Linked DNA regions of Homo sapiens. The protein of the gene in region 2 interacts with the protein of the main gene of each other region in a biochemical or structural test. Each region holds a gene or a part of one and is shown on either strand. Other genes may lie near its edges. The genes, in order: PRUNE1, NME1 and FBXO24.

The links.
Region 1: the proteins of NME1 (region 2) and PRUNE1 form a complex in vitro, tested with the Homo sapiens proteins (one study listed by BioGRID).
Region 3: the proteins of NME1 (region 2) and FBXO24 form a complex in vitro, tested with the Homo sapiens proteins (one study listed by BioGRID).

What each region holds. Positions count from the first base shown.
Region 1 is NC_000001.11:151,028,923-151,032,575, reverse strand, and holds part of PRUNE1 (exopolyphosphatase PRUNE1), read right to left. Parts: coding exon 3,632-3,653; intron 1-3,631. UniProt on the Homo sapiens protein: Phosphodiesterase (PDE) that has higher activity toward cAMP than cGMP, as substrate. Plays a role in cell proliferation, migration and differentiation, and acts as a negative regulator of NME1. Plays a role in the regulation of neurogenesis.
Region 2 is NC_000017.11:51,159,461-51,162,668, reverse strand, and holds the end of NME1 (nucleoside diphosphate kinase A), read right to left. Parts: intron 2,690-3,208; coding exon 2,588-2,689; intron 1,510-2,587; coding exon 1,397-1,509; intron 942-1,396; coding exon 824-941; 3' UTR 501-823; downstream 1-500. Other genes in the region: NME1-NME2 protein, read right to left, coding at 1,397-1,509, 2,588-2,689. UniProt on the Homo sapiens protein: Major role in the synthesis of nucleoside triphosphates other than ATP. The ATP gamma phosphate is transferred to the NDP beta phosphate via a ping-pong mechanism, using a phosphorylated active-site intermediate.
Region 3 is NC_000007.14:100,598,846-100,601,643, reverse strand, and holds the end of FBXO24 (F-box only protein 24), read right to left. Parts: intron 1,974-2,798; exon of another isoform or gene 1,842-1,973; intron 1,614-1,841; coding exon 1,443-1,613; intron 1,111-1,442; coding exon 745-1,110; 3' UTR 527-744; downstream 1-526. UniProt on the Homo sapiens protein: Substrate-recognition component of the SCF (SKP1-CUL1-F-box protein)-type E3 ubiquitin ligase complex.

The DNA.
Region 1 (3,653 bases), on a different chromosome or scaffold from region 2:
AGCCTGGCTAATGTTTGTATTTTTAGTGGAGACGGGGTTACACCATGTTAGCCAGGCTGGTCTCGAACTCCTGCCCTCAGGTCATCCGCTCTCGCCTCGGCCTCCCAAAGTGCTAGGATTACAGGTGTGAGCCACCAAGCCTGGCCCACAGTATTTTATTTTAGTATTTTGTATTTTTTATTTAATAGACTAGGGATGGGGTCTTGCTATGTTGCCCAGGCTGGTCTCCAAATCCTGGTCTCAAGCAATCCTCCTGCTTCAGCCTCCGAAAGTGCTGGGATTCATACACAGTGTTTTATTTATTTTATTTTACTTTAATTTTTTTTTTTTTGAAATGGATTCTTGCTCTGTTACCCAGGCTGGAGTACAGTGGCACGATCTTAGCTCACTGCAACCTTCGCCTCCCAGATTCAAGCAATTCTCTTGCTTCAGCCTCCTGAGTAGCTGGGATTACAGGCACCTGCCATCATGCCCAGCTAATTTTTGTATTTTTAGTAGAGACGGGGTTTCGCCATATTGGCCAGGCTGGTCTCAAACTCCTGAGCTCAGGTGATCTGCCCAGCTCAGCCTCCCAAAGTTCTGGGATTACAGGCATGAGCTACCATACCCAGCCATACACAGTATTTTAAAAACAGAGGAAACAGTTTAGATTGTATATTTCATTTTATTATTAAAGTAACTAAAGCGAAGTAAGATGGTTGTGAGTAAAATCATGCAGATGATGGCAGTTAAACCAGAACCGAGGAACCCCAGCTTCTAATCTAGTGTCGTTTCCAAGTGTATAAATGTGCTCAAGAACTTGAACTAGGATGGAACTAGAATTTATCTAGAGGCCAGAAGAGGGATGGAGGAAGAAAGAATGAATTGAACAAAATAAGACTGGTATCACTATTACCCTCACTTACATGCAGGGAAACTGAGGCTTCAATGATCAGGTAACTTGCCTAAGGTCATAATTTGCATGAAGCAAAACTGACACTGAGCCCAGAGCTGTCACCAAAGCCAGTGTTCTAAATCAATATATTATACTACCCCTAACATAGGAGAAAGAGAGGAGATGGTAGAGTAGACTGTAAGAAAAGGACTCCTGGCTGGGCATAGTGGCCCACACCTGCAATTCCAGAACTCTGGGAAGCTGAGGCTGGTGGATCACTTGAGTCCAGGAGTTCGAGACCAGCCTGGGCAACATAGCGAGACTCTGTCCCTACAAAAAATACAAAAAAAATTAGCTAGCCATGGTGGTGTGCCTGTAGCCGCAGCTACTTGGGAGGCTGGGAGGATTGCTTGAACCCGGGAGGCAGAGGTTGCAGTGAGCTGAGATAGTGCCATTGTACCACTCCAGCCTGGTCAACAGAGTGAGACATCTCAAAAAAAAAAAAAAACACACACACACACACACAAAAACAAAACAGAGAGAGAAGGACTCCTGTTTCCAAGCATAGGGGCAACCTAGACAATGGTAGAGTCATTAGAAATCCACACAGCTTTAAAAGAGCAGCACAGAGGGGAGAAGATTCAGGAACGTGGAAGAGGTACTTCTAATGGCCAAAGCACCCTTTTCTTACTGACAGGATTAGTAAGAGCCACTATTTACAAAGTGCTTACTCTGCTCCAGGAGTGTGCTTTACACATGATATTACGTTTAATGATCATAGCAGAATTAGCAGTAGGTACTATTATGCCATTTCCAGATGCAGAAGTCAACTGACTTGCCTTAGCTCAAAGAGTGAGTAAGAGGCAAACCTAGAACAGAAAAGCACATCTACCTGACTTTAAAAACTGCAGTTCTTGGCCAGGTGCAGTGGCTCAGGCTTGTAATTCCAGCACTTCGGAAGGCCAAGGCAGGTGGATCACTTGAGGTCAGGAGTTCGAGACCTGCCTGGCTAACATGGTGAAACCCCATCTCTACTAAAAATACAAAAATTAGTCAGGCATGGTGGCAGGCGCCTGTAGTCCCAGCTACAGGCTGAGGTGGGAGAACTGACTGAACCTGGGAGGTGGCGGTTGCAGTGAGCCAAGATCACACCACTGTACTCAAGCCTGGGCGACAGAGTGAGACTCCATCTTAAAAAACAAACAAACAGACAAAACTGCAGTTCTTTTCATAATGACGAACTACCTTACACTGAATGAAATCAGATTTGCTTCCTGGGGAGAAGGCAAAGGCAAAGGGGGGCGGGAAAGGACAGACATACCTTCTATGAGAGCAAAGGATTATCTGGCTGTATTCTGTCTTTAGCAGTCCTCACAGAGCCTAGGCAACCCTCAGAATCCCTGAACTGCCTTAAGCCCACCTTTTTTTTTTTTTTTTTTGGAGACGGAGTCTTGCTCTGTTGGCAGGATGGAGTACAGTGGCGCAATCTCGGCTCACTGCAACCTCTGCTTGCCGAGGTTCAAGAGATTCTCCTGCCTCAGCCTCCTGAGTAGCTGGGACTATAGGCACGCACCACCACGCCCAGCTAATTTCCGTATTTTTAAAAGAGATGGGGTTTCACCATGTTGGCCAGGATGGTCTTGATCTCTTGCTCTCGTGATCTGCCCGCCTCAGCTTCCCAAAGTGCTGGGATTACAGGTGTGAGCCACCGCACCCAGCCTTAAGCCCACTTTTAAATTCTTCCCTAGGCTAATCAGTAACCAGCAGAGGAACAGAAGGGGGAGGAAGTAGGAAAGATAGCCAAATCTGGATCTAGATCACTTCTTTACAGAGTTTGCACTATACAGAATAATTAATCCCTGCATAGTAAGTAGCAGAAAAGGTCTCTCGTATTTCTAATTTTCAAGGCAACAGCATAATTCCAGGGGTGAGGAATTAATGATTAAACCAAGAATAGAGTTTTTGTTTTTTTTTTTCCCCAACAGAGATGAGGTCTTGCTATCTTTGCCCAGGCTGGACTCAAACTTTCCAGCTCGGCTGGGCGCGGTGGCTCACGCCTGTAATCCCAGCACTTTGGGAGGCCAAGGCGGGCGGATCACGAGGTCAGGAGATCGAGACTATCCTGGCTAACACGGTGAAACCCCGTCTCTACTAAAAATACAAAAAATTAGCCGGGCGTGGTGGCGGGCGCCTGTAGTCCCAGCTACTCGGGAGGCTGAGGCAGGACAATGGCGTTAACCCAGGAGGCAGAGCTTGCAGTGAGCCGAGATTGTGCCACTGCACCCCAGCCTGGGCAACAGCACAAGACTGTCTCAAAAAAAAAAAAAAAAAAAAAACTTTCCAGCTTAAGCAATCCTTCTGCATCAGCCTCCCGAGTTGCTGGGACTACAGGCACGTGCCACTGTCCCTAGCTCAAGAAGGGAATTTTAACTCCGGATTTATAACATTTCCTTCTAACTAGATTTCGTTCTTTCAAAGTAGGAATTGAATCTCTAGTTCTCTTTGGAATTCCCCCTTTCTCAACAATGCTATGATTAAGGATGTTCATTAAAAAAAAAAAAAGGATATTCATATAGAGAGAGAATGGGAAAAAGCAGAAAGGGGAGGAAACAGGTCCAGAAACAGGTCAAGGGACCTCATGTAAGTACATTAATATAAGAACCTAAGAGAGGTCCTTATAGGACAGCTGTAGAGCACAGAGGTACATACAGGCAGACTCTGTAAGGCTCTTAGGTTGGAGAAGGGACACAGACTCACCGTTGTTTGGAGTGCCACATGG
Region 2 (3,208 bases):
CATGATCATGGTTCACTGCAGCCTTGGACTCCTGGGCACAATCCTCCTGCCTATGCCTTCCCAATAGCTAGGACTAGAGGTGCACAGCACCAGAGCTAATTTTTTTTTTTTTTTTTTGTAAAGACAGCGTCTTGCTATGTTGCCCACCCTGGACTTGAACTTCTGGCCTCTAGCGATTCTCCTCCTCAGCCTCCTGAATAGCTGGGATTAAAGGCATGAGCCATCGTACCCAGCCTAATTTTTCTTTTTTTTTTTTTAGTGAGACAGGGTCTTGCTATGTTACCCAGGCTGGTCTCCCATCTCAGCCTCCCAAGTAGCTGGTATCACAAGCACAAGCCAGCACACCCAGCCCTCATGTTTTCTTTCATTTCTGATGAATCCTCTGCACCTAGTCCAGTCTTGGCCACGTAGCACATGCTCCATAGATGCCTGTTGAATAGCTCAGTGCCAAGAGTGGAAGGGATGCGGGGGTTAAGAAGGGCAGGCAAAGAATGCCTGTGTGTATGTGAGACCTCAAAATAAATCATTTTTATAGTATTTACACTCTCTATTAGGTCAGGTTATTCAGTGTACATGAAAAGAAGGAAAAAAAAGCAATGCAACAATATGAAGTAACCAACTCAATGAATCCTATGCTGGGAGGAAGCATTTTAATCAGATGGTCGGGGATGGTAACACTGTACAGGGAGAACTCACAGCTCCAAGAGCTTCCCTCCAAATTATGATGAAGTTCCTGTAAATAACTAGATTTCCTACAGCCTGGTCCTCTGCCCATGGGAAGGAGGGGAAATGGATGTGAAAAGCAATGTGGTCTGCCCTCCTGTCATTCATAGATCCAGTTCTGAGCACAGCTCGTGTAATCTACCAGTTCCTCAGGGTGAAACCACAAGCCGATCTCCTTCTCTGCACTCTCCACAGAATCACTGCCATGTATAATGTTCCTGGGTGGAGAAAGAGATAGTCACATGACCAAGACCAGAAGGATTAAAATGCGCCCATTGCCAGAAATCTACAGCCACAGCAGCATAAAAGCTGAAGCTCCATGGACATTAGACCATGTTAAAAGAAAAAGCCTACAATGGCCATTCACTTAAGGCTGAAAAATGCCCTCCCCACATCCAGCCCTCCCGGCCACGCTGGTGCAAACAGTGAGAGCCTTCAGGAAAGACTGGCCAGCAAAGTGTGTTGTACCAGGTTCTACACTTCGTGTAACAGAGGTACGACTAAGTGATGTTAACAACCAAAGCCAAACGCCAACTTAAGAGGGAGGAAAACAATAAACTCCGATAAAATCAACCTGCATATGGTATCATGTCTACCTCCAGCCTCGGAAACCCAAATCCTTGTGGCAACTAAATCAGATTTTGGAAAAGGGGGAAAAATACCAAAATCTCACCTGCCAACTTGTATGCAGAAGTCTCCACGGATGGTCCCAGGCTTGGAGTCTGCAGGGTTGGTCTCCCCGAGCATGACTCGGCCCGTCTTCACCACATTCAGCCCCTCCCAGACCTCCAAGGACAGAAGAAGATATGGTCAAAGAAGAAAACCAATCACAGCAGAAAATCTGGCAACTATTAATTCAAAAAAGGAAAAATAAAAAGGCCCCTTAAGATTATATTCATTCACTGAACAAATGTTTATAGAGTATATCCACTTATTCCAGCACTGAGGATCCTGATCTCCCTGCCCTCATGCTTGCCTTTCTACAATGTATTCTCCATACAGCAACCAGAGCAGCCTCCTTAAAATGCCAAGTGTGGGCAGGGCGCAGTGGCTCACGCCTGTAATCCCAGCCCTTTGGGAGGCTGAGGGGAGTGGATCACGAGGTCAGGAGATCGAGACCATCCTGGCTAACATGGTGAAACCCTGTCTCTACTAAAAATACGAAAAGATTAGCTGGGCGTGGTGGCGGGCGCCTGTAGTCCCAGCTACTCAGGAGGCTAAGGCAGGAGAATGGCGTGAACCCGGGAGGTGGAGCTTGCGGTGAGACGAGATGGCACCACTGCACTCCAGCCTGGGCAACAGAGCAAGACTCCGTCTCAAAAAAAAAAAAAAAAAGAAATGCCAAGTGTGAAGTGTCCCATAGCTTCCCAGCACTCAGGAAGTATATGGTCAACACACCCCTAAGAGAGAAGGCCCCTGCCCATGCCTCTGAACTCTTCACCTCCCAACTTCCCTCCCACCCATCAGGCTTCGGGCATTTCAACTCTCCTCCCGTACTTCAAAAAGCCAAGCTCATTCCCACCCTGGGACCTTTGCACATGCTGTTTGCTTGGCTGGAAATGTTTTTCACTGTGATTCTGTACATGGCTGGCTGCTTCTTGTCATTCAGATCGCTGCTTCTTGTCATTCAGATCACAGCTTAAAAATTGCGTTCTTTGATCACCCAATCTAAAGTGATCATTTGCTACTCCTATTCATTTCTGGGCATATTTCATTTCTGAAGCCTATCACTAACCATTAGCTGGTATATGAAAACAGGTATCTATTTGGTCTCATTCATGGCTGTATCCCCAGTGTCTAGAAGAGAGCCTAGCACAGATGACAAGCAATGCATACTTGGAGTATCCCACACAGGCACACTCACCATGGCAACTACCGGCCCTGAGTGCATGTATTTCACCAGGCCGGCAAAGAATGGACGGTCCTTCAGGTCAACGTAGTGTTCCTTGAGAAGATCTTCGGAAGCCTATTCAACAGGACAGAGAATGAGAATAACCCCCAAACCATCTAAGGACATATAATCCATTTAATTTCCCCTCATCCACCCTGCTATGTAAAACATGAGCGGTTGGGCTCACTGATTCTGTTATAACCCAATTCATTCTCCACACTGGAAGGGAGCAGTGACAGGACTAAATGTACTTCTCCAATTTTATATCAGTTGTCTCCCTATTGGCACTGACTGATAATAAAACCACAGAACATTAAAATTAAATCCAGCTATCTCATTTAAAAAAAAATCAAACTCCTGGGCTCAAGTGATCCTCCTGCCTCAGACTCCCGAGTAGGTAGGACTGTAGACACACACTACCAGACTTGGCTAATTTTATTTATTTATTTATTTATTTTGAGACAGAGTCTCCCTCTGTCACCCAGGCTGGAGTGCAGTGGCGTGATCCTGACTTACTGCAACCTCCACCTCCTGGGTTCAAGTGATTCTCCTGCCTCAGCCTCCCAAGTAGCTGGGATTACAGGTGGCGGCCAT
Region 3 (2,798 bases), on a different chromosome or scaffold from region 2:
ATGACCTCTTCCAACTACTTGAAGGTACAGGAAGCAAGGCAGGAGGCATGGGGTGTGGATGAAGGGAGTGTCCTTGTTACTCAGGAAGAGGTGGAAGGAGTAGAAAATAGAGCCCAAACCTGGGAGGTAAACAGAAGGGAGAGAGGAGGGGGGCTGGCTTCAGGCCGAAGGGAGATGGGTGGGAAGCTTTCGGGGGTCAGGAGGAACAGGCTGCCTCAGGATGGGGACAAGTCTAGTGGGCAGGGGATCCCAGTGGGGTAGCCAAGAGCATCTGTGCATAGAGTTGTTCCAGAAGGTAGGGCCAGAACTTCCCAGTCCAAACGACCAGGTGTGCTCTTGGGAGCAGGGAGTGGACAACAATGTGAAGGGTTCAGGCAGCATCAGCTCTGCTGCACCTGAGACCTGGAGCTGCTTGTGCTGCCTGCCCCTGCCTGGGCTCCTGCCCTCCTGCACCCACCAAGCCGGGCACCCACCCACCCCATCCCTGCCCCTGTCCCTCCCAGCCCCCAAGGCTTCCACACCAGGCCTCGCTGCAGCCTTTTATTCTATCCATCAAATCTCTTGTCCATGATAGTCAGGTTGGGGGCCCCTCCTGGGCAGCCCCCTGAACATTCTTACCCTGGTTAGCCGTCCCCACCCCCTAGCAACCCCTTCCCACACGCATGTGCACAATGGTCATTGCTCCTTAGTCCCTGGCCTGGGGCCGGACTCCCTCCTCCAGGGACTAGGCTAGCATGAGGGGGATTAGGTCTCAGGGGCTGGGGGCCCTACACCACCCCCGCCTCCTTCAGCCCTCTGCAGCATGTCCAGGGCCTCCCAGAAGAAGTCCTTCTGTGCGGCCATCAGGGGCATCCACCCTACGATCTCCTTCATCTTCTCCGTGCGGTCCTGCAACGTTTGGCAACTGTGGATCTGGCTGAGGTACTCCTCGCAGGCCTGGGCCATCCCCCCGGGGTCCTGGGGTGCTCTGGCCCCCAGGCTGGGCTCAGGAGTCCCCACCACCCTGCTGGCTGGCAGGTGGCGATAGGGGGCGTGCTGCTCAATGTCGTGGCTGGACAGGATGTATAGGCACTCCCTGGTGGCACAGAGGGCACAGGCACACAGAGGGACCTTGGAGGAGGAGAGAAAGGGGGCATGGCTGAGTGGTGCTTTCCTTGCAGGGTTTCCCAGGGTGCCCGGGCTAATCTGCCTATTGCATTCTTCCCTCTCACACCAGCCCTGAGCCGGCTAAGTCCCAGGGGTGTGTGAGGTTGGGCAAGGCCAGCACAGTCTGCTAAGGGAGAAAGCAGAGAGCGTGGTGTGCGGCAGAGGAGGGAGGTGGGGTGGTGCTAGGGAAATGGGACCCCCTGGGTCCCTGCAGGAGCCCCAGCTACAGCCTGTGGGCTTCCTGGTTCATGGCTCTCATCCTCCCTGGGTGCCCACTCTCCTGACCCCGCTCTGACCTTGACTTGGAGCTTGACGAAGGAGGCACTCCCCTTGGGCCAGCCTGGGAGGCGGCCCCCAGCCCCACAGCCGCAGCCCAGCAGCTCCTTGCTGAACTCTGAGCTCTGGCTCAGCACCAGGGAGTGGTTGAGGCCGCACCACAGGGTGATGGGCCGCTGCAGGTAACAAACCTGGGGACACACGGCCAGGGTCCCTGAGCAGGGAGCACCAAGGGACGGGGGGGCTGGGGTGGGAAAAGGTTGACTGGAAGGCTCGGGGCAGAATGAACTGGGGAGGAGGAAATGGGAGCCAGCACTGTCCCACGCCCCAGGTCTGCCCTGCTGACCCCTGCAGCCCCCATACTCTAACTGGTCACATAGGGTCTTGCACTTCTGTTGGTATCTCATCTATGCCCCCAGAAAATCAGCTCCTTGCCTGAGCCCAGGGCCTGCTGTGGTGTACCCCTCATTCTCAGCCCACCCGTCTATGCCAGTCCAGCCTCTCATCCTGCCTGCCAGCCTCGGGGAGACTTGCTTCTTGTGCAATTCCAGGTTAGACCCCAACACCACCCTGAGGAAGGACTTTCCCTTCCACTATCCCTCCCTTCCTGCTCTAGTATTATCTTTTCTTTCTTTCTTTCTTTTTTTTTTTTTTGTTTGAGACAGAGTCGGAAGGCTGGAGTGCAGCAGTGCGATCTCGGCTCACTGCAACCTCTGCCTTCCTGGGTTCAAGTGATTCTCCCACCTCAGCCTCCCAAGTAGCTAGGACTACAGGTCCTTGCCACCACACCCATCTAATTTTTGTATTTTTAGTAGAGAAGGGGTTTTGCCATGTTGACCAGGCTGGTCTCGAACTCCTGACCTCAGGTGATCTGCCTGCCTTGGCCTCCCAAAGTGCTGGGATTACAGGCATGAACCACTGAGCCCAGCCTCCACTCTAGCATTTTTATTTTCTCTTTTCTTTTTTTAGAGATGGGGTCTCATTCTGTTGCCCAGGCTGAAATGCAGTGGTGCAATCATAGCTCACTGCAGCCTTGACCTCCTGGGCTCAAGCCATTCTTCTGCCTCAGCCTCCTGAGTAGTTGGGAATACAGGCATGTGCCACCACACCCGGCATGTGCCTATAATTTTTAAATTTTAAATTTTTAAATTTTCTATAGAGATAGTGTCTCACTATGTTGCTCATGGTGATCTCGAACTCCGGGCCTCCCACCTCAGCCTCTAGCATTTTTTTTTTTTTTGTAGAGACGGAGTCTCGCTCTGTTGCCCAAGCTGAAGTGCAGTGGCACGATTTCAGTTCACTGCAACCTCCGCCTCTCCAGTTCAAGCAATTCTCCTTCCTCAGCCTCCCGAGTAGCTGGGACTATGGGTGCACAC